4 linked regions of the Homo sapiens genome follow. The protein of the gene in region 1 interacts with the protein of each later gene in a pairwise test. Each region holds a gene or a part of one and is shown in the gene's direction. Other genes may lie near its edges. The genes, in order: SERTM1, TMEM19, KCNJ6 and MTIF3.

Region 1 (6,361 bases):
ACCTACACGTCCTGCACATGTATCCTGGAACTTAAAATAAAATAAAATTTATATATATATATATAAAATATAGTCCTTTTTAATATAAGAGGATCAAGAGACTCCACTGTGTGACTCTTCTGTCATTTATTTAACTAATCTTTGACTCATGGACATTTTAGTAGCTTCAATGTTTAGCTACAGAATACATCTTTGTGCATGTACTTTTAAACTTGTCTGATTTTTTTCTCCATTGGATAAATTCTTAAAATGTATCATTTACACTGTTATCCTATAATGCTACCTGGTTTGTGTGAAAAGAGAAGCATTCAAATAGTTCATGCAACAAGCAGTAGACCTTCCTCACTGTGACCCATTCTTCCCTATGCCTGGCACATAATACTCTTCTCCTCAAAAGAATTTTATTAGCAGTTAACATTCATATAGAAAAGTACACAGATCATAAAGACATAAGATATCATAAAGACATAATTTATGTGTTCAATTTGACACACCCATATAAATGGTGCCAGGCTCAAAAAAAAAATTTACTAATGCATGTTGAGCATCCCTAATCCAAAAATCCAAAGTCTGAAATGTCCCAAAATCTAAACTTTTTGAGCATTGGCATGATGCCACAGTGCACAGTACCCTTTTCATCAAAAGGCAGCACAGCAGGTTGAGACTGAAAGCCTGCTGTTTGTTGTTGGTGTTGTTGAACAGCTGATACAAGTATTCTTGAGATGCAACTGTACTGCTTAGTCAATTTTTTTGTTTGTTTGTTTTGTTTTGTTTTTGTTTGTTTTTTGTTTTTGAGATGGAGTCTTGCTCTGTCACCCAGGCTGGACAGTGCAGTGGCGCAATCTCGGCTCACTGCAACACCTGTCTCCCACGTTCAAGCGATTCTCCTGTCTCAGCCTCCTGAGTAGCTGGGATCACAGGTGCCTGCCACCACACCTGGCTAATTTTTGTATTTTTAGTAGAGATGGGGTTTCACCATGCTGGCCAGCTGGTCTTGAACTCCTGACTTCAAGTGGTCCACCCGCCTTGGCCTCCCAAAGTGCTGGGATTACAGGTGTGACCCACCGCACCTGACCTGCTTAGTTACCCTTGAACACATTTTTTTCTGTGTATTAATGATGTCATATCTTTTAGTGTTAAGTATTTGTGTGCGAATAAGTGTAAGAAAATAATTCCTATGAGTAGCATATAAATTCAGTCAGGAATTATGGTGATACCAAATAACCACAAATTGTTCACATGGGTGGCTAAGATAGTGACATTTTTGCTTTCTGATGGTTCAACGCACACAACTTTGTTTCATGCAAAAAAAAATATTAAACATATTGTATAAAATTACCTTCAGCCTATGTGTATAAGGTGTATATGAAACATAAATGAATTTTGTGTTTAGGCTTGAGTCCCATCCCCAAGATATCTCATGTATATTCAAATATTCCAAAATCCAAAAAAAAATTCAAAATCAGAAACACTGATTCCAGAGCATTTTGGATAAGGGATAAGGGATACTCAATCTGTACCCTCTGCCATTCTCCTCAAGGCAAAACTGTCGTTCTAACAACTACTCATGGGAAAGTCTTTGGTGAGCTTGGATGCTAGTCTCAGACCTTCAGAAAGACTCCTCGCCAACAAAATGGGTCTAGTTGAATGGAATGAGTTTCTAAGATCTTTCAGTCTGTTCAAGTGTCGCCTTATTATCCCTGTCGGTTTTGGCCTTACATTTTTCCACTGAACTCCCTGCTTGGCACATATTTTGATTCATATGATGAAAAGCCTCTGGATTAAAAAAAATTAACTTCTTTTTTGTCTGCCTTCCTCTTGTTAGCCACTCAGCTCAGCTCTGAGTATAGAGTGGATTTAGGGTTGGAAAGGGGGTGCTAGGCCCTCAATTTGTGGTCTCTTTCACTAGCTGGAGTTCCTACTACATATCCTTTTTCAAAAACAAGTGACATATAAACAATGACCTTCAAACTTCACTTAACTTTTGGGGGTGTCATTTTCCTGATTGCTAAAGACTTGTAGCTCTCTGATTCTATGAAAATTTTTTTCTTTTGTTGTTATTGCTGCTTGTGTGGTTTTTAGTTTTCAATGGTTTTACTTTGTTGTTGTTGTTGTCGTTTTGTTTGTTTGTTTCTGGTTTTGAGACGGAGTCTCGCTCTGTTGCCAGGCTGGAGTGCAGTGGTGCGATCTCTGCTCACTATAACCTCCGCCTCCCGGTTCAAGCGATTCTCCTGTTTTTTAATAGGGGAAAGTTAAGATTTAGAGGGACTATAAAGGAAAACAAAAGAATAAATCAGGTACCTAGTACCTGCTATATATTTGCAGTTAGTTGTACGATGAATGAAAAAAGAGAATATTTGCTTCTCTTGTGCTCATCTGTTTTCACTCCTCTTATTATTTTCCTAAGAAGCTGAGGTTTTTGGATTAGTTCCCTGGCATAGTGCTGGTAAGGAGATTGCTGCTCACATCACCATGGCTATGATCTGCGTCAAGTACTACTCGAAGCACAGTCCATGCACCAGCGCCCATTTGAATTATTACTTATTCGTCATGAGATACAGAACTCGTGCCAGAATATAAATCAAATAAGGTACTAGGCATACTTTTTAGTTTAACTATTTCCTTTCTTTCTTTTTCTTCTTTTGTAGCAAGACTTTCTTGATGAAGGAAGCACTGTATTTATTGCAGTTTCCTCATCTCACAGGGACCTGTAACCAACATGCCACTGAGGGAGCCAGGTGGCTACTTTGAGTAGCCCAGATCTCCAAAGTAGCACTTTGTAGTCAAATTGAACATTTGATAAAAATGTAAACATTTTCTTTTTCTGTGCTGATTTGCTATTGAATTTTTCAAGCTGTTTTTGTTTCATTTTGGTTTGGTTTGGTTTAGCATTGAGATGGAGTAGCTAACAATCCTATGGTATGTGATATTCCTGAATGTAGTGAATTATAATAAGCTTCCCCTACAATGATCATGAAGTGGGGATTTTCCTTGACCCTTTTTATTTCCACAGATGAGCACAGTGTCATAGGTTGTGATGATAAAGGATTTGTGATTTTCAAAGGATGGAATTATCATGGAGTTTAAGAAATTCTTTTAAAAATGCATTCTGGGTCATATTCAGCCAGAGCTTCATAGTCTCACTATGGTAAACTCTCTTGATTTTTATTGTGCCCTTCAGAATACATTTGTTACAACCCTCCAGCTTGTTCACAAGAATGTATTTCAGTATTTCCAGCACACTCCTCCATCCTTTCCTCAATTATCCTGGTGAACAGTTGACCAAATAAAATCTTAGCTTTCTTAGACATTGTTGAAAGACACAGTTGGTTGATTTTTAAAAGTATGGGCATAGTTTGCCCTGGAACCAGAAACTATTAATTTTATTGCCATAATTGAAACACTTCTAAAATTTAGAGAGCATTCATCATCATTATTCTTTACTGTTGATGCTTACCCCCTTTGAGTAATCTTTATGATTTTACACAAGATCATTTATTCATTTGTTAAATAAACATTCTTTTGCCTGTAAAGACAGAATAAACATGAGCTATCTCTCCAAGAAGCTTCAAGTTTCTTTATTCCCTTATTCTTTCATTCATGCAGCCATCTAACAAATGCTGATTGATCATCCTTATGCCACATTCTGTACTAGTCTGTGGATATAAGATAGGTGAATTGTTATTTCTTTATTCTAGGACTTCCCAGTTTGTTAAAGCAGATAGGTAAATAAATGTAGTAAGTATAATAAAATGTGAGAAATGCTAGTGTAGAAAGGTACAGAAAGTATGCTGAGAATGCAGAGGAGGGAGCCAGAAATTTGCATAGAGAAAGTAGGTAGGGATTTCTATTAGGTGAATAATAAGCAGATGAGACAGAGGATGGATGGCTTGAGTAGAGACCTGCAGTGAATAAATTGGATTTGGGTTCAAGTTAGGGAGAGGATATGTACACATATAAGGATTGAACATAAGTATTTTTTTAACTGGAGAATTGAAAACAGCATGTTATGCCTGGAACGCAAATCTTAGGTACAATGGTAAAAACGAGACTGGAAAAGTAGCCTGTGGCCAGATCATAAGGGACAGACCATATAAGAGAAGTCTTAGATTTCTCACTGTAGCTGGCAACTATACAAATTATAGATGCATTAGACTCATGCACATAATGATAATATTCTACCCCTTCCTGTACATTGTTAAGAAATATTTGTTCAATGTATGATTGAATGCAGCAAATACTATAGTTTTTCTTTTTCTTCTTTCTTTCTTTATTTATTTGTTGAGATGGAGTCTCACACTGTCTCCCAGGCTGGAGTGCAATGGCATGATCTCTGCTCACTGCAATCTCTGCCTCCTGGGTTCAAATGATTCTCCTGCCTCAGCCTCCCAAGTAGCTAGTTTTTCTTAACCAAAAACAATACCACTGACCCTTGTACGATGAGTTTTTTTTTCCACTAGGAGTCATGAGTTAGTCTTAATATTCTTATTGCCTCTCACCTGTTCCCATTTGAAACCATTTGGCCTGTTTAAGTGACAGCTGGTCAGGATTATCCTTATACAGTAGCAGCTCATCATATTTGAGCTTGTTAAGGAACATGTCTTTGGCACTACCAGTAGCTAAATCTCATGCCCTTAAACCTAACACTTCTATGAAATTAAAGCTAACCAAAACAGCCTTGAAAACCTTCTTTCTCACCAGTGCCAAAATAGAGTTTTAATATATTACATACACAATTCATACAACTCTCAATTATTCATAATTTGACTTATTTATGGTCAAATTCTTACAGACCCATAATAAACTCAGCCATCAAAGTATAGTGAGACCTTATGTTAGTTAGTAGAAGGAGAATGATGCTACAGTAACAAATAAGCCCCAAATCTCAGTGGCTTAAAACAACAAAAGTTTATTAATGTTGACATAAGTGTCAATGGGGCCAGCAAGGGGTGAAGATACTCACTGTGGTCACTCAAGGATGCAGACTGATAGACATTGGCAGGTACTTACACCATTACACAATAACTGCAGCAGAGGGAAGAGGTGTGGCAAGTCTCACACTAGGTCTTACATTTTCTATCCAGAAGGGACATGTCACCTTTCATACATTTCATTGGTCAAAATAAGTCATACAGTCACCCTAAATTCAGAGGGAGTGGGAACATGAAATCCTACGACAGGCCTACGAGAAGGGACATCAGAAATATTTCGTGAACAGCACTAGTGACTACAAGTCTCAAATACATTCCTCCTCAACCCACAGTCTCCCCAGAGAGAAGGAATGGAATGAACATACAATTTGGAGACGGAGAGATGTAGTTTGAATTCCAGCCCTGCCTCTAAGTGGTTGGGTGAGCTTGGACAAGCCTTTAAATTCTCTGAGCTTGTGGGGCGCAGTGGCTTACGCCTGTAATCCCAGCACTTTGGGAGGCTGAGGCAGACATATTTCCTGAGCTCAGGAGTTTGAGACCACCCTGGGCAACATGGTGAAACCCCGTCTCTACTAAAATACAAAAATTAGCCGGACGTGGTGGTGGGTGCCTCTACTCCCAGATACTGGGGAGGCTGAGGCATGAGAATCGCTTGAACCCAGGAGGCAGATGTTGCGGTGAGCTGAGATCGCACCACTGCACTCCAGCCTGGGCGACAGAGCGAGACTCTGTCAAAAAAAAAAATTCTCTGAGCTTTAATTTTCTCATTTGCTAAAAAAGATGATGGGAGATAATACTAACTGACTTAATGAGTTGTGGCGATTAAAGAAAACACACATACATATACAGACACACATCCAAAATTGGTACATGCTTTTATTTGATAAATACTAGCAGCCATCATTTATGTTACTCTGGTTCTTTTTTCTCAAACTGATTTGTCTGCACATTCTTTCTCCTCCACAAGCATCCTGGGTTTGCCTTCCTCTGCCAATCATGCTCTGAAGACAGACTGCTACTCCTCAATGACTTGGGGATGCCCTCACTACCTCTTTCCTCTCTCCTGTACCTCTCATCATTCTTCTGCCATGATGTGTCTCTGCATCCCAGCTCAAACCATTGAAACGAAAGAGAACTGATACTAGATGTAAAAATAGTGAATAATGGGTGAAAGTGTAGGCTATTTCTACAAATGAATTAAAAATGCAGAGCTCACATCATCTAAAAGTAAGGTGAAGAGCTCAGCCTTGATAAAGGACTGTCAAAGTCAGTTAAATCTTGTACTAAAGATTATCCATAATTTCCTTGAGTGAAAACATATTTATTTATATTTTTAAAAGAATGTGTAACTATCTTCTATAGGTCACTACTTTGGCAGTCTGTTTTCCACAAATAATTCCTAATTATTTTTCAGTTTCACCTTCTTACAT
Region 2 (6,361 bases), on another chromosome or scaffold:
AAGCATGTCCTTAACTTACTTTCAGTAGTAACTGATAGTTCTAAAGTCAGGTAGCAAAAATATAATATGCATGTTTCTAAAAATTATCCTAGTGCTATAACATGCCACTTGATCTGCTTGAGCATAAAGGAAATCTGCTAGATTATAAACTCCTTGAGGACAAAGAGTATCTTATGCTTCTGTGTCCCATGTTTCTTTGAATAGTGCTAGATACATAATAGATGATTAGGAATAGATGTAGTCTGATTTTTAAAAACCTTTGCTTTTTTCCTAATTATTTCATTCTATGAACTGTTTATCTTTTCTTCTTTTTTGTAAAAAAAAAAATTATGGCCAGGTATGGTGGCTCACACCTGTAATCCCAAAACTTAGGGAGGCCAAAGCAGGCAGATCACTTGAGCCCAGGAGTTTGAGACCAGCCTAGGCAACGTGGTGAAACCTCGTCTCTACTAAAAATACAAATATTAGCCAGGCATGGTGACAGGTGCCTGTAATCCCAGGTACTTGGGAGGCTGAGGCAGGAGAACCGCTTGAACCCAGGAGGCAGAGGCTGCAGTGAGCTGAGATCATGCTGCTGCACTCAAGCCTGGGTGACAGAGCGAGACCCTGTCCCAAAAAAAAAATTTTTTTTTAGAGGCAGGGTCTCGCTCTATCACCCAGGCTGTAGTGCAGTGATGCAACCATAGCTTAGTGCAGCCTTGAATTCCTGGGCTCAAGCAGTTCGCCTGCCTCAGCTTCCTGGGTAGTAGCGACTACAGGCACGCGCCGCCACACCCAGCTTTTCTTACTGTTTGGAACTTTTTGTTTCCTTAAGGATAAAAAAAAATCTAATGCTGATTTAAAGTATATCATAGTAGTTGGGAATATTATCCTAGAGTATGACTGCAAGTCACTTAAACTCTCAGTGTTGTACTTGTCCTGTCTATAAAATGTGAAGGAATAATGGTATCTATAGCAATGAATTATCATGAAGTGTTATCCATGTAAAATGCTTAGCACAGTACTTGGCATACAAATATTTTATAGATGTTAGTTATTATTACTGTTTTCCTTCCACTACTGCTATTCACAGTGATATAGTTTGACCATGTCTCCACACAAATCTCATCTTGAATTGTAGCTCCCATAATTCCCACATGTCAAGGGAGGGACCTGGTAGGAGGTAATTGAATCATGGGACAGGTCTTTCCCGTGCTGTTCTCGTGATAGTGAATAAGTCTCACGAGAGCTGATGGTTTTGTAAAGGGGAGTTCACCTACACAAGCCCCCTTGCCTGCCGCTATGTAAGATGTGACTTTGCTCCTCATTTGCCTTTGGCCATGATTGTGAGGCCTCCCCAGCCATGTGGAACTGTGAGCCAGTTGAACCTCTTTTCTTTATAAATTACCCAGTTTCAGGTTTGTTTTTATTAGCAGCGTGACAGCAGACTAATACACACAGTTATAAGAAATTTTACTTTGCTACATCATGACTTTAGTGTGTCTAGGATTTAGAAGTAAGAGTTACAGAACTTCCTCAGGATCTGGGTATTTAGAACCATTCATGACAGAAACATATACCTCAGTGTTAAGAGGATTAGGCAGGGGTTCAGTCACAGTCAGTCTCTAAGCTGCACACTGAAGTGGAGGGCTCTGGTCTCTTGGAGAGAGAGCGAGCATTGCCAGAATAAGGAGAGGGTCACATGAGGGGGATTTGTGGCAAAGTGTTTGTGGAAGAGCACAGCAAGAGGGGGTGTTGTCAGGAAAGGCCACTGGTGGTGCTCTGTGTGGTTTCACAAGGGTGGCCTGACCTCTTTTTGGTCACTATACTTTGGGTCTGGTTTCAGTCTTTCTGAAGTAGAAGCCTCACTCTGTCATGTACCCAGAGTTGATTAGAGCCTAGAAAACTGGTTGAGTGTTGCTCATTGTCATAAAGGATTGCTATATGAGCCAGAATGCCACTTCATTAATCAGATAGAAGAACTACCAGGCAGAAGAACACAAACATCACTGTTCAGGCATGCCCTATTCTTGTAGTCAGGCCACTTGAGAAGTCAGATTATAATTAGAAGGCTGCTTTGGTGAGTACAAAGTCTGAGAAACAGTTATGCAAATCCACAAATCAAAGGTTCCCCTCCCTTGGACATGGTTCAAGAAGTCTGCCAACCTCTGGTTCTTTTGGCCTTCACTTTCTACATTTTGGGCTAGCCAAGTAAATTATTATAGAATATGTATGAAGCAATAGGTGAGCTTTGAGTTTATTAAATTACTATGAAATTCCAGTCCTGCCTTTCTCTTTTATGCCTCCTGGAGATTACCCAGGTCACCCTGGTTGGAATTTGGGGTATAACTCTACTCCCATTGTCAGAAATTTGTAGACAGTGTCATTTTACTCCCCCAATGCTATCTGTTAGGTACAGAATTTACCTGTTTTAGGCTCACAAGGCAACCATAGTCCTCAAGTCTTCAAATTATTTGGGAGTGCCCTATTGTCATATATATGAACCCCTTATCAATGATATTTAGAGATCTGCAGGATGGAGAGGTAGAAAAGGTATGAACAGGAGATAGCAGTTACTAATCTAAAATGTAGACATAGGTAGGAGTTGCCAAAAGTTCCAAGCGATCTTTACACTGCATGAAAGAAACCATTCCCTCAAAGCTTGTCTTGTTCATTTCCTCAATCTGAAGCTGTCACCAACATGAACATTAATTGCTTCATGTGGTATTTTAAGGTGGCTGAAGTAAAAAGGATATAGATGCCATTTGTAACATCTCAGTGTAGGTTGTGTAGGGCTCTTCTACCTTGGGTTTGTTTAGAGACGGTGGAACAAATTGTTAACAGTGAATATTCATGAAGAGGAGGAGGGGAGACACTTTGACTTTCAGTTTGTATACTTCCATGTGTTTTGACTTTCCCCTTCAGTAGTTGCATACAACTTTTGTAATGTTTTAAAAATCAGTTGAAAAAACTTAAAGGTTGGATAACAATATTGTAATATTTATCATTATTATTGTTGAGCTTTTGCCACTGGAACTGTTGCTGTTATTAGTATCCATGATATTAGGTAACACTTATTAAGGACCTCTTACATCCTGGATAATATAATAAGCATATTACAAAAATTATCCCTGACTTTTTACAGCAAGCCGGTAAAGTCAGAATTCTGATTATTCTCATTTCACCAATGCAAAATTGAGACTTAAGGAGGTTAGGTAACTTATCCTAATCTTGAAGAGGTAAGTGAAGGAGCCACAGTTTGAACTCTAGACTGTTCAACTCCAGAGCTGAAGCACTTTGTTATTATTAATACTTTATATCAAGTTACCCTGTTTCTGTACTCTCGATTAAAAGGTACCAAAGTTAAATACCAGTAATTGAGTATCTCTGGAAGGGTCAATGAGTAACTATCTCATTGGTTATGATATCTGAACTTTGAGCTAAGCAATGGAAAGGGTTATTATAGAAAAAGAAGGCCAGGTGCTGTGGCTCACTCCTGCAATCCCAGCACTTTAGGAGGCCAATGCTGGGCAGATTGCTTGAGCCCAGGAGTTTGAGACCAGCCTGGGCAATATAGTGAGACCCCATCTCTATTTCTAATTTTTTTAAATTAAGATAATTTTAAAAATATTATCTAAAATATTATCTTACATTCATATGGCATTGCTTGAAAGGAGATTAAAATATGGTAAAAAATGTGTACTCAAAATGGCATTCAGTTTACTGCTTGCTAAGAATTTAATTGGTAAAATGCAAATTGCTAGAAATGTACATTTCAGGTTATAATATAAAAATAATGGAAAAAATCCATTCTTTTTTCACAGCATTGATGTATGAATTGAATATAATTCTGTGTTTATATATGTTTCTTTCAGGGCTAGTCGTTGGATTTATCCTAACCATTGCAAATTTCAGCTTTTTTACCTCTTTGCTGATGTTTTTCTTGTCTTCTTCGAAACTCACTAAATGGAAGGGAGAAGTGAAGAAGCGTCTAGATTCAGAATATAAGGAAGGTAAAATTATGTTTGATATCATTCAAAATAGTAAACTTCATTTAATCCTAACATAAGGTTTTTTTTTGTTTTTGTTTTTGTTTTTTTTTTTGAGACGGAGTCTTGCTCTGTTGCCCAGGCTGGAGTGCACTGGCGCAATCTCGGCTCGCTGTAAGCTCCGCCTCCCGGGTTCACACCATTCTCCTGGCTCAGCTTCCTGAGTAGCTGGGACTACAGGCGCCTGCAACCATGCCTGGCTAATTTTTTTGTATTTTTAGTAGAGACGGGGTTTCACCGTATTAGCCAGGATGGTCGCAATCTCCTGACCTCGTGATCCGCCTGCCTCGGCCTCCCAAAGTGCTGGGATTACAAGCGTGAGCCACTGCGCCCAGCCAACATAAGCTTTTAATCAGAATGTTGTTTAAACTGTCAAAACACATCAATTTTATATGAGAATTCCTTTAGTAGCCAAATTGAGTTTATAATTTATTTCACAACAATGGGAAATGACAGCAGAATTTTAGAAGCACTAGAGTCTATCATGATTTTTCCAGATTTGTTAATAACAGTATAAAATCTGGGCAAATGTACCATAACACTTTTACTGTTTTTAAATTTTTTTGTTGTTTTTCTTTTCTTAAACTTTAAAACATAAACACCTATAACTGCATGGTTTTTCTTCTAAGGAGGAATCATTTGTTTGTCCTTTTCATCTGTTTGTTTCCAGGTGGGCAAAGGAATTGGGTTCAGGTGTTCTGTAATGGAGCTGTACCCACAGAACTGGCCCTGCTGTACATGATAGAAAATGGCCCCGGGGAAATCCCAGTCGATTTTTCCAAGCAGTACTCCGCTTCCTGGATGTGTTTGTCTCTCTTGGCTGCACTGGCCTGCTCTGCTGGAGACACATGGGCTTCAGAAGTTGGCCCAGTTCTGAGTAAAAGTTCTCCAAGACTGATAACAACCTGGGAGAAAGTTCCAGTTGGTGAGTTTTTTCTTCTTTTTGACCCATTGGTAGACACAGTTGGTGAGTCTTGATTTGAGATTCTTTAAAAAAACCAAAAAACCTCTTGATGTAATGTATTTTAGAGCCTTTTAAGAACTTTATTTAGTCTCTTTAAATAATAATTGGAAAATTTCTGTCGACTATTAAATTGGTAATAATAAATAATATTTGCAGGAAATGTTAGCAAGACCTAGATAAGCAATACAGGAACATAGAGATTGATTTGCAAACATATCAGTAGGGAAGGAAAAGAGAGGGAACAATAGAATATTTATTGAGGGCCTGTTAGGATATCAGTGCTTTAAGATATATCTCAATTCTCCATTATCAACATTATCAACAACTACATAGGTTGAGCATCTCAAATCTGAAAATCCAAAATCCAAAATGCTCCAAAATCTCAAACTTTTTGAACACTGACATGATGCTCACAGGAAATGTTCATTGGAACATTTCAGATTTACGATTTTCAGATTCGGGATGTTCAACTGTTAAGTCTATATAATGCAAATATTCCAAACTCTGAAAAAATTTGAAATCCAAAACACTTCTGGTCTCAAGCAATTCAAGTAAAGAGAATACTCAACCTATACTGCTTCTTTTTGTCCTCTGATGCTTCTCTTCCTCTTCGTCCCCTTCTTTTCTTTCTACCCATCCTATCCCCCATCATCACCTTCTCCTCCTTTTTTTTCTCCTCTTCTTCATCATCATTGTAACAGCTAGCATATTTTAGATACCTACTACAGAGCACTATTCTAACTGCTTTACACGGATTGCCACTTAGTACTCCTAATAATCATATAAATTGGTTCTTTTATTATTTATATCTTATAAAGAAACTAAAGCACAAAGAAGTTAGATAAATTAACTACAGTCACATGGCTTAAGAGTAGCAGAATTGGGCCTGGCAAGGTGGCTCATGCCTGTCATCCCAACTACTAGAGAGGCTGAGATGGGAGGATCACTTGAGCCTGGAGTTGGAGGCTGCAGTAGGCTATGATCACACCATTGTACTCTAGCCTGGTTGATAGAGCAAAACCTTGTCTCTGAAAAGAGAGAGAGAGAGAGAGAGAGAGAGAGAGAGAGAGAGAGAGAGAGAGAGAGAAGCAGAACCAAGATTGAAACCAGGCAGTCTGGCTTCATTGAACCATTCTGCTTCATTGCTTAAAATGTCAAGAGTTACCGAGGAGAAAATACTGTTTTCTAAAAAGCTACAGTCTTTAGATTGCATTAAAGAGAATGCTTTCTTTAAATTAGTCTTGATTAGATAGGTACCTTGCTGTCCTTGCCTTTATGTGTTTGCTGATTATTAACCGGATGATTTTCTGCATGTTTCTTCTTCAGGTACCAATGGAGGAGTTACAGTGGTGGGCCTTGTCTCCAGTCT
Region 3 (6,361 bases), on another chromosome or scaffold:
TATCCTTAAAACCGAAGATGTGCTAGCATGACTAAAAACAGTGAATAGGAAGATCTTCCTAGGAGTAAACTGAATTATTTTGTAATTGGAAGGGAAGAAAAAACACTTTAGATAAAATGAGATGTGTGTGGCATTTAGAGGACTGGGTGGCTGTGGATATTTGCTTCCCTGTGGATATATTTTCATTTTCATCAAAACATTAAGCTTGGATTAGTTTTTAAGTGAAATAACATCAGTATTCCCAAAACCCAATAAAAGCCCAGTGGATCCACAGGTACATCTGTTGTACTAGGTGCAATATGGAGAGATTGTCAGGGGGAAAATATATCTTAATAGAAACAGCCACAGAGGGTGAGGTTAGTGGAGAAACAAAATACCAGAATTTTCCAAAGAATTCCGCCTCCAACCCCCAAAAAAAGGAAGAGAAAAAAAAAAAAACCCCACAACTCCAGTGTTTGGGAGTTGGAGATGTATTATATGTTTAGAGTGTTTCCCAACTGCTGTTATCCAAAGTCTGTCGGTCCCGGGGAGCCCTACGGTACAGGGAGCAATGCCACATCCTGCTAGCCCTGTTCCCTGCCTGCCTTTCTTTTGCTGAAAAAAAGAAACGGAAAAGGGTGATGCCCAGGAACTGCTTAGGGAGAAAAAAGGGCTTGCTACAGTCAGGGCTGAGCTAACTGAGCTTCGCCCATTTTGCCTGGAGAAAGAAAAAGAGCTCGAGTCTCCATGGCGACCCAGGTGGGAGGGGAGACCGCAGCTCCAGTTATAGGGGAAAAAAATTGGACAAAACTTTCCCGGCTCCAGGCAAAGGAATACGCCAGCCGCGTGCCCTGTGGCGGGTCCCAGGGCATCGGTTGTGCCCAACTCCCTGACGGCGACGCTCGAGAGGGCGCCCAGAGCTGGCCGGGTGCCCCTGAAACCTCCCGAAAGTTGCCTGGGGGCCGCCGAGGTGGTGGTTCCTCAGCGGGTTCCGGATTCAGCACCAAGGCCAGAGCCCAGGCGCCGAGGGTGAAGCCTCACCTGTCTGCAGCCCCCAGCAAGCAGTACCCACTCCTTTGGTCGCTGGAGGTCAATCACTTTCTATAAATAAATGAGTCTTTGGCTCGTGCAGAATCTGGATATCAAATTACCCACGGAATTACGTGAGGCAAAGAAGCTTGCAAATCATCCATTTTATGCATGGCGGTGCATCAGAGGACCTATTCAGAATCAAGAACACTGGGACAGGGAAAGACCTGAGCTGAACTGAGAGTGGAGACAGGATTCTGTCCTCAGGGGGAGAAAAAGGACGCGCGCGCGCACAGACACACACACACACACACACACACACACACACACACACACACCCCGATCCGCCTCTGACGAGGGTTGCTAGTTTCAGCTGAGTCCCTTTGGCTTTCAAAAGCATGCATCCCTTGCCCTCTCACGCTCTTCTCTTTAACTTTTTGTTGGGCATAGATGGCAGAAGGGAGCTGTGGAAGCACCCTGGTCAGCGAGAGGCCAGCCAACCAAGTTTGTTATTTCTTTCTTTCTTTTTTAGACGGAGTCTCGCTGTGTCACCCAGGCTAGAGTGCAGTGGCTCGATCTCGGCTCACTGCAACCTCTGCGTCCCGGTTTCAAGCGATTCTCCTACCTCAGCCTCCTGAGTAGCTGGGATTACAGGCGCACACCACAACACCTGGCTAATTTTTGTATTTTTAGTAGAGACGGGGTTTCACCATGTTGGTCAGGCTGGTCTCGAACTCATGACGTTGTGATCCGCCTGCCTCAGCCTCCCAGAGTGCTGGGATTACAGGCGTGAGCCACCGTATCCGGCCCAGCCAAATTCTTTCTAAGGGTCCTAGGACTGAAGAGGGTGGAGATATAGTTTCCTCTCGGTCTAGAACTGGAAGGAATCAAAACAACACTGGTGAGCTTCCGAAAAGGAGAGAGAGTTTGTTAGCAAGATGAGAGCCAGTGATCACATCTTCAAGCCTGCGTGTGAGCAAGGTGGCTACATTTCCTAGGTTGCAGTCGTAGGAAACCGAGAGGAGTCACTTCTCTTAATACAAACAAGGAAGAAACTGCAGGAGGGGAGGATTTATTACCATTCAAGTTCCATTTCAACATTCATACAGGGAAAACAGGTAAGTCCATCAAGCCCTTCTGCTCTCACTTTACGAGAAGCTGGTCTTTGCCCTGCTCTCATCCTTGGTAGTAGGTCCCCCACCACCACAACTGTCACTGATATGAAGAGGAAAAATAATACAGGAAGGTGACAGTCATATTTGAAATAGAATGCCTGTCAGAGTGCCATCCAGGTGTTACAAGGTATACTTTGAATTGCAGAGCCCAGTCAAGGTTTGGCAACTGGTTGGAAATGTTGATAAAGCTTCAACAATATCCCTGGCTGCTTTCCTGTTTTGTGGATGCACTTGTGCATGAGGTCTTGAGCTGGTTCTGGTTTGTTATTTTTAATGGTAAACAAGATATGATCCTGGTTTTCCTTGCTGGGCTTTCCAAGTGTGACATGTTGTTTCTAAAGATATTGCATGCTGAGCACTCAGGATGTGGTTAAAGCAGTGTGTTTCTACCTTCCAGTCTTTTCAAATGATTGCTAGTGAAGACAGAGCAATCTATTTCAAACCTAAGCAAAAGGATGAGTTATTACACTATTTCTTACATTTCAGTTCCTGATAGGTATTGACAAGTTTATCCATAATTTAGTTTATGAAAAGGTTGCTACCTAAAGTAGACAGAAGAAGTGACACGTGGAGTATTAAACAACGCAGCTGTTCCTTGGCCTTGTTCCATCTGACATTATCAGCAGAAGGGAAGTAGACGTTCATTATGAGGATGAAGCTATACGAGAATATAGACTGTTAGATAAACAAAGTAATGTATTTCTGAGTTCTAAAGTTCAATTTCTCTAATAAATTAAAAAGGGGGGTGGTGTCAATAATCTAGGTATATGAAATTGTTCAGTCAATAATCTTTACTTCTGGTAGTTTCCATGCTCACATATTCAGTGCTTATTCACCGAACTATGACTTGCTTTCTTCCTAGGTGGCTAATTGATTAACAAAGTGTCACTATGCCCTTTTCAGTCAATAGCATACTCCAAAATAATTGGTTTACTCATTTCAAGTAAGATTTGTTAAGGAGAGCAACTTGTGAAAATTCGCCCCCATTCACTTGGTTCCATTTTGCTATTTTAAAAAATCATTTTGATACCTCTTCTAGGTATTGCCTAAACAATAGTTACCTCATCTAGATATTGCCTAAACATTAGTATGTTTTCCTTTGTGTGAGACAGGTCTTTATTTAATACATAGGACTTACATGAACTATTTTCCTTGAGAATATAGAAGGGCTTTTAACTCAGTCTCATATTCCTCCCTATCATCTCAGTCTACCTCTACTTTATAGGGAAAAAAATTAGAATAGTTATTTAAGAAGTTATAGAAAAAATTCATTGGAGATTAAAAATAAAATACCCTTATGGAATCTTAACCCCATTCACTGATTTTCACAGGTAGAAAATGTTGCTGTTCTCAAGGGTTTAATGTTGACCATGTAAACCTTAATGAAAACAAGATAAATGCTCTTTATGGAAAGGCAGGCAGATAAGGTGAAGCTCTTCTCTTTTTCACCAGTTCTTCCTTTATCAAATGATATGTAAGTAATATGGAAATGGAAATGGACCAGAAATAGGCAGAGTAGGAGGAAAGAAGAAAGTGAGGGGAAAAGGCAGTTACTTATTGCTACCAGCTTTAAACTGACAATACTTTTCAAAGTGAGGTTGGTTTTTCTAAGTTCATTGTATTAGAACTTTAAGTTTGGTGGAATTAAGATGTTTAAATTCAGTGAATTTGGATTTATAGCTTATTGAGATGGCATTTCTTGTTTCTTCATTTTATCTTCAATAATTGGCATTTAAGTACCAAAAGATAATTGATTCACTCTGGAGTTTTACAAAATTATTAACTTTGGTAATACCAGTAAGGGGGAAATTGGCAGTTAAGTTGAAAAATCATCAAAACACTTTTGTTGAGTTAGTTTTCTTTTTAATTTTAGTGAAAGTATTTGGAGAGATAGAAGAATAAAATGTAGCTGTTTAGGATAAAAATACATTTTGAAGTGCATTTTAAATAATTATTTCTAGAAATAATTAGGCTCCAATAAAAAGAAGAGATAATCACAATTGCAGTTAGTGCTCTAATGGTATTCTGAATTTCCTCTGGCAAAGTACTAGAATATACATATACTTGCTATCATTTTAATAACATTAAATAATAGTGAAATTATTTTCCTCAAAGAGCGGTCTCATCATTAAAAGAAGAGTCTGTATCCTCTCTAAACTATAGCTTTGATCTAATCATACCTGCTAATCAGTTGTAAATATTCATTTATTTATTTGTTACTAAATTGAATCATTGTTTAAACAAAACCTCAGAGAATGATTTTGTGCAGTGTGCAATGTTCAAATGGTCATTCAGATCTGATTTTATATGGAATGCAGTAAGGCCATCAATCAATTTTCCCAATTACAATGTGTAAAGTTAACCCTAAATTTTAACCAAGTGACTAATTTATGTCTATACAAATGTATCCAAGTCAGATTAAACCCATTATCTCCTTGAGTCTCATGCTTCTCATTTTTTCTGTATGGCTGTGCTTAGGACCAGGAATCATACAGTACTGGTGATTCTTTTAGTGAATAGATTTTGGCTAACATGTATCACCGGTCTTATTCCCAGTCACAGAGATGTGGTTTCCGACATGAAATCCTTACAAAAGGAACCAGAAAGTGCATCTGTGGCTAAAAAGATCCATGTCCTTGCCAACAACTGTTCTGTGGGACTAAATCTGAAGGTATTATATGCAATGTGAGAGACATATCTATAAATTAAGTTTAAATCCTGTGGCAGTTTCCTCTTTAAACTTACAGACATCTACTTTTTTCTTATCCAGGATAAGAATTGATTTTTTTCATGATGCTTTAAATTTCTCTTGTATCATCTAGCAGGAACTTGTGCAAGTTTGACAATGTGCTTGGTAGGCGGTGTTGCTCCGTGATTAAGAGCACAGGCTCCGGTGTTTCTTACTAACTGAATCTGCATCAAGGTCTAGGTGTATCTGTCCATTTTTGCCAAGTTTGGGGCAGTAACAGCAACCCCAGCATCTCAGTGGCTTACAAAACAAAGGCGTATTATTCTCTGGAGCGCTATGCCTCTGCTGGTCAGCTGTGGCTCTGCTCCTGTGACTTCATTCTGGAATTCAAGATCAAGAATTGGTCTGGAACACTCTATCCCAGTATCAGAGGAAAAGGAGACTCCCAAGTTAAGCAATGGCCCTTAACATTTCTGCTCAGACATGGCACAAGTTATCCACTCACATTCCATTGACCGGACAATTCACATGTCACATCAGTGTCAATGATCAATGGGAAGGAGATGTATATTTCTCCCACAGTGAAGCACTGCAAGCCGTGCAGCAACAGGTAGAGACATCTAATCTTTCAGAGAGGGAAGAGAATAATTGGAGGCAATAATATAATCCACTATGCTAACTATGTGACCTTAATCAACTTTATGCCTTGCTTTCCCTATCATAAAATAATAACAATAAGAGTAATAATAACAACATATACCTCAGAGATGTTATGAGGATTCATGTGATAATGTAAGTAAAGTTCTTAGCACAGGCCAGGAGCGGTGGCTTACACCTATAATCCCAGCACTTTAGGAGGCCGAGTCAGGTGGATCCCTTGAGGCCAGGAGATGACTTGAGACCAGCCTGGCCAAAGTGGCAAAACCCCATCTCTACTAAAAATACAAAAATCAGCCAGGTGTGGAGGCACATGCCTGTAGTCCCAGCTACTCAGGAGGCTGAGGCACAAGAATTGCTTGAACCCAGGAGGCAGATGTTGCAGTGAGCTGAGATCACACCACTGCACTCCAGCCTGGGTGAGAGGGAGACTCTGTCTCCAAAAAAAAAAAAAAAGTTCTTTGTGCAGTGTCCAGCACAAAGTAGGCACTTTAAAAATAGCAGATGTTTTTATTCATTTATTGCAATGTGGCATTAACTTCAGTTCTTGATGAGCCTGTGTATACTGTATTAATTAGAAAGTTCTTGAAACAGAAAATATCTAAATCTCACTAATTTAACAAAATAGAAGATTTCTTTCACATAAATCTAATTGGTTGATGCCGTACAAGGACCCAGGCTGAGGGACACTTTGTCATCTTTAGTACATGGCTTCTAAGATCTGCTGAGTGGTGATATCCAACTAGCAGACAAGGAAAGAGGGAGAGTAGATGATTATGTAGAAGATTTTAATGATCCGGGCCTAGAAGTAATGTATATCACTCCTATTCAT
Region 4 (5,572 bases), 9.2 Mb from region 1:
CATCTCCCATGCCAAAGCATTGTGTTGCAATATCAGTAGCAACACTCTTAGATATACAACCAGTCACTTGACGAGGCACTTGTCATTTAAGCCTCACAGAAGTCAGGAATTGGATATTAAGCAAAGATGTTTGTTTTTCATAGTTCCTAAAAAGTGCCAATCATTATGAAAGTTCAATGGATGGCGCACGGGGACAGGCATCAGATGACTGCTCCCAGCACTGCATCGTGAGGTTGTGTGCCTTCAGAAAACCACATGTTATCTGCGGCTCAGTTTTGTAATGCCACATTTAACAAGGATGTTGACTGGAAAACAATATTCAGAAGAGACCAACCAGGGAGGATAATGACGTCAAACTATGTCACTTAAAAAAAAAAAGGTCACTGGGCGTGGTGGCTCACGTCTGTAATCCCAGCACTTTGGGAGGCCAAGGCAGGTGGATGGCTTGAGCTCAGGAATTCAATACCAGCCTGGGCAATATAGCAAAACCCCATCTCTACAAAAAATTTTAAAATTAGCAAGGTGTAGTGGTGCAAACCTGTGATCCCAGCTACTTGGGAGGCTGAGGTGGGAGGATCACTTGAGCCTAGGAGGCAAAGGCTGCAGTGAAGAACCATGATCATGCCACTGCACTTCAGCCTGGGTGACAGAGCGAGACCCTGTGTTTAAAAAAAAAAAAAAAAAAAAAAAAAACAGTCTTGCTCTGTTGCCCAGGCTGGAGTGCTGTGGTGTGATTTCGGCTCACTGCAGCCTCCATCTCCTGGGATCCAGCAATCCTCCCACCTCTGCCTCCCACACAGCTGGGACCACAGGTGCACACCACCATGCCTGGCCTTTTTTTTTTTTTTTTTTTTTTGTAGAGATGGGGTCTCGCTATGTTGCTCAGGTCTTGAACTCCTGAGCTCCAACGATCTGCCTGCTTCAGCCTCCCAAAGTGCTGGGATTATAGGCGTGAGCCAGCACACCTGGCCCCCAATCTTTATGATGAACCCTGGTGCATACTCTAGGGTCTATGAACCTAAATGGATCAAACTGCTCAGCAGCAGTGTATGCAGTTTCTCTACCTCCTCCCTCATTTGTCATTTTAATGGTGAGAAATTAATGTGTATTTCACTTTTTTCTTCTGTGAATTGCGTGTTTATATTCCTTTATTTTTCTACGTAGATGGTTTTTCTCCGATTTATAGGGTTCTCTGTTGTGTATGATGGAAAAAACCGTATCCCAGTTAGATTTTTCATTTTGCCTTTTTTTCTTAATGAGTTCCATCCCCTATCCTGAGATCACAAACCATTCTGTCTTTTCTTCTGTTTGTTTTAAAGTTGTATTTTTCACCTGTAGAACATTAGTATACCTGGGGAGACCTAACTTTTTGTCATCTATAAACTTCTCAATTGTCCCAACACCTTTATTGAGTGGCCGGTTCCTTCTCTATAATTTTCCAGTAGGCAGGATTTCTGGAGACAGAGGGCATGAACACAGGATGTAGGGACCCTTACCTGTCCAACAGTCTGGCTGACCCCTTATAGCAAGGAGAGCATCTCAAAAGGAGTGGGTAGTGCACTCCCAGATGCCAACCCACAGCTGATAGATAAGGATGTTAAGTGCACCATGAAGCCAAACTTGATCCTTTAAACGACTATCTTTTGGTGTTCTTTCAACAAACGATGGTTAACAATAAATGGAAGCATTTCAGATTTTAAGTACCCTTCCAGGGCAGGTAAAAAATTGGTACCTTTATGTGTATCTTCCCCATTTGAAAAGACATTTACTGGTCTGTGAAACTGAAAGCCAGATGAGAAGATTGTCAGGTGGCAACCTAGGATTTTATGATGGGCATGTTGGGAAGTTCAGGGTTCACAGTGGACTAGTCAGTAGTCCTTGCACCCTATCTGTTTCAAACCAGGACCAACCCTGAGAAAGGAACTGATTTTGTCTTCAAATATTGGACAACATGATTTGGACACAAAGACTAAACAGATTCAGCAGTGGATTAAGAAAAAACACCTAGTCCAGATTACCATAAAGAAAGGAAAAAATGTAGACGTGTCAGAAAATGAAATGGTAAGTAAAGAAGGTACAAGCCACTGCTTGTGCTTTGGGTCTTCTGATCTAAAAATACAATTGTAGGCCAGGCGCGGTGGCTCACGCCTGTAATCCCAGCATTTTGGGAGGCCAAGGTGGGCGGATCACGAGATCAGGAGATTGAGACCAACCTGGCTAACATGGTGAAACCCCGTCTCTACTAAAAATACAAAAAATTAGCCAGGCGTGGTGGCGGGCACCTGTAGTCCCAGCTACTGGGGAAGCTGAGGCAGGAGAATGGCGTGAACCCGGGAGGCGGAGCTTGCAGTGAGCCGAGATCGCGCCACTGCACTCCAGCCTGGGTGACAGAGCAAGACTCCGTCTCAAAAAAAAAAAAAAAAAAAAAAAATTGTAGAAAATCTGAAATATAAAGACAAAGTGACTGGTAATTCTTCCACCCAGTGATGTTAACAGCTTTCTAGTTTGCTTTTCAAAACTAAGCATACTGTAGATATAGTTTCCATTACAGCGTATTTTGCCATATGAACACATTATTCCTTAAAAGCAATATACTATTGTTTTATAAATTGTAGAATAACCCTTAAACAGGAAAATTAGAAACTTTATAGATTTTTTGTTTCTTCTTTGTACTTATAGGGGCATTAATTACGTAGACTGTCTTCTAGAAAGTGTGTAGTTTCCAATCCCATAAGTTTATGGAATACCTATTTTGCTTTTTTTTTTTAAAAGTTAGATAACTTTATCATCCACTAAGGGTATCCTTAGTAATCCAGCTCCACAGTAGAGTCACTTAAGCATAGGTCGCAACCCAGCTGATGCAGAATTTCTTGAGCCCAGGTATCCATTTGTTTCAGTCACTGAGAGAGACTCTGTTAGGGGCAATAGAGAGTGCTGAGAACTGCTCGGCTGACACCTTGGGGATGAGGAGGTATTTTGCCAATGCCCAAACCCAGTGCTTTCTGTTTGTGGGAGAGGGTAATGCTGAGCCAAACGTAGCCTCTTCGTGCCATGACGAAGTGGAGATTTAAAATTAGGAAGCATTCAGCATGTCAGTTTAGTTACATGGTGTTATTGTACAGATTTCAGTCAACTTAACCAGATACGTATGAACTGATTAGCTAATCACTTAACCGACAGCAGCAATTCAAGGGTGCCAGTTTTTGTGAATGTTCAAGCAGAACATTAGAAAGCACCAAAGCCTCTGATTTTAAATTAATCTTTGGCTGTTTCCCTTTTTTAGGAGGAGATATTTCATCAAATACTCCAGACTATGCCTGGAATAGCTACATTCTCATCTAGGCCACAAGCTGTTCAAGGAGGAAAAGCTTTAATGTGTGTTCTTCGTGCTTTCAGCAAAAATGAGGAGAAGGCATATAAAGAAACTCAAGAGACCCAGGAAAGAGACACTTTGAACAAAGACCATGGAAATGATAAGGAATCAAATGTTCTGCATCAGTAATTTTAATAAAGAAAAGCATGCTCTGAGAGAAAGCTCGCTCCTTGGTCTGCAGTCCTTTAAACAAAGCAGTGCAGTTCTTAGCCAAGGGTAAGTACTGCAACTGTCGAGAGCATCTTGTCTTCCACACAGTTGGGTGACTCTCCGTTTTGACACAAAGATAAGCCTTGCCCTTGTTTCCTTTTGGGAGGGATATATCCACTGAGATGAGAGGCCAAACTCCGTTTTTCACGAGATTTTTTGACCTTTGGGAATAAGGAAGACACACGATTAGAATTCAAAATCAAAACTGTCTGAGTTAATTTTACGATAGTCATATGTACCAGCAGATATAGTGTACAACATTGCTTTATGAGGAAGTAAAGTCTTCAACAGTAGTGCAGACTCAAACAGTAAAGCAGGTGAAAAGAATTCCAAACAGACTCCTTCTGGCCTTAAACAATTTCCACTTGAAAACTAAGCTTGCCTAAGTAGTTTCAACTTACTTTGAGCTTCATTTTCTTCTTGTCAGGATCATGTACAACAGCATGCCTAGTGAGACTTTGCTACAATGAAAGAGAAAGTTATTAATGAAATATTAATATGAAAACCATGTTGTGAAAGCATAGACTATAGGACCATGAGTATGAGGGTGAGTGCTTACTTTCATTGCAAATGTTTTGCCACAGCCAGCATGTTCACACACAAAAGGGCGGCTTTCCTCATGGAAGGAGAGGATATGGCTTTGGAGATTAAACACAGTTGTATAGGTTCTTCCACAGCCTTCTCTTGGACAGCGACATACATCCCTTTCTGGGGCATGAGTTTTCATGTGTTGCTTAAGGTAATCTTTGCGTTTAAATGTTTTCCGGCATACTTCACATAGTATTTCCTCTGGTGGGACAGACAGACAAATTTCACAAATTTCCCCAGATATTACCATTTAGAAAAAATTAATACCTAATATATAAGTAACATTCAGTGCCTGAAACCTGATCACTATATACAAATCAGAAATTCCCAAGGAAACAACCCCAGTTTTTATCACCTAGGAAGTTTGTCTCAATTCTCTGAAGTTCTTAAATGCCACACAGTCATTGTTCACTTGCCAAGAGGCAGGGCTCTCAGGAAGGTGACTGTGGGGAGGTACAGAAAATGAAGCAGACCAGTGTCCTTCCTTGTCCCCCAGTATGCAGGGTACTGTTTCCCAGGCGGTCCCACAGAACAGCAGTGCCTCCCGAAATTCTTCACTACAGACCTGCCACCGCCTTCAGCATGCTAATTGTGCATGGTGGGGTGGCTCAGAGACCTGGCACAGCTCTGCTCACCTTTCCAACAACATCATACCCAGCACTTCACAAAATATCATAGAGAAACCCTTTTACTTTAAAGCACACAGCATTTCACTCTTGAAAAGCACTAAATCAGTTCTGTGGGGACAAACATTTACACCATGCCTGCCATTCATGCCTGCCTTACCTTTATGGGTTTCTCTCACATGTTTCAGAAGTTCCGTCCATGTTTTTGCCACAAAGGAACATCCTTTTTGACATACATAGCCTATTAAAAAAATTGGTGCATTGTCTGTCATGAATACTCAGTGTAAACACTGACCATAACTAGAAAGGAAACTTAGGTGCCTATATAATTTTCCATTCCCCGCCTAATAGTATTCAACTCAGCCTCTTGAGGTGGGAATAAAAACTAAAAAAAGATTGATGTTATAGTAAAACTGAACAGTGGCACAGCAAGGTGCCTCCCTTTAAGGATTTTACCTTCCTGTGAAGCAAACTTCAGAGTTCCCATCTTCTCAGCGTGATCACGGAATAGGCAAACTTCACAGGAAGGATGCCTAAGGATGCCTTTTCCTCTCTAAGAGTTCTCAGGAAGTTGGGTAGGCTGTGTATGGACTCCCAACTGCTTTAACCTCCTATCTCCATGTCTTATTTCCCTTCCCCTGCCTGCTCTATCCTCGCCTCTATTTTCCTCAGCAAACATACTCTGCAGTCGGTCCCTTGTCCATGGCACACCACCAACTTTTCAGTAGTGTTACCATGCCCACCTCTGGCTTCCTCTAGTCTGGCCATCTTGTAA

Evidence for each region.
Region 2: the proteins of SERTM1 (region 1) and TMEM19 interact in binary tests that used the Homo sapiens proteins (3 or more experiments, as listed by UniProt).
Region 3: the proteins of SERTM1 (region 1) and KCNJ6 interact in binary tests that used the Homo sapiens proteins (3 or more experiments, as listed by UniProt).
Region 4: the proteins of SERTM1 (region 1) and MTIF3 interact in binary tests that used the Homo sapiens proteins (3 or more experiments, as listed by UniProt).

The regions. Positions count from the first base shown.
Region 1 is NC_000013.11:36,678,631-36,684,991, forward strand, and holds part of SERTM1 (serine-rich and transmembrane domain-containing protein 1), read left to right. Parts: intron 1-3,564; exon of another isoform or gene 3,565-3,656; intron 3,657-6,361.
Region 2 is NC_000012.12:71,692,582-71,698,942, forward strand, and holds part of TMEM19 (transmembrane protein 19), read left to right. Parts: intron 1-3,854; coding exon 3,855-3,992; intron 3,993-4,698; coding exon 4,699-4,953; intron 4,954-6,318; coding exon 6,319-6,361.
Region 3 is NC_000021.9:37,908,994-37,915,354, reverse strand, and holds part of KCNJ6 (G protein-activated inward rectifier potassium channel 2), read left to right. Parts: intron 1-6,361. UniProt on the Homo sapiens protein: Inward rectifier potassium channels are characterized by a greater tendency to allow potassium to flow into the cell rather than out of it.
Region 4 is NC_000013.11:27,433,605-27,439,176, reverse strand, and holds the end of MTIF3 (translation initiation factor IF-3, mitochondrial), read left to right. Parts: intron 1-1,903; coding exon 1,904-2,061; intron 2,062-3,283; coding exon 3,284-3,502; 3' UTR 3,503-3,534; downstream 3,535-5,572. Other genes in the region: GTF3A (transcription factor IIIA), read right to left, coding at 3,580-3,744, 3,985-4,044, 4,143-4,372, 4,958-5,038. UniProt on the Homo sapiens protein: IF-3 binds to the 28S ribosomal subunit and shifts the equilibrium between 55S ribosomes and their 39S and 28S subunits in favor of the free subunits, thus enhancing the availability of 28S subunits on which protein synthesis initiation begins.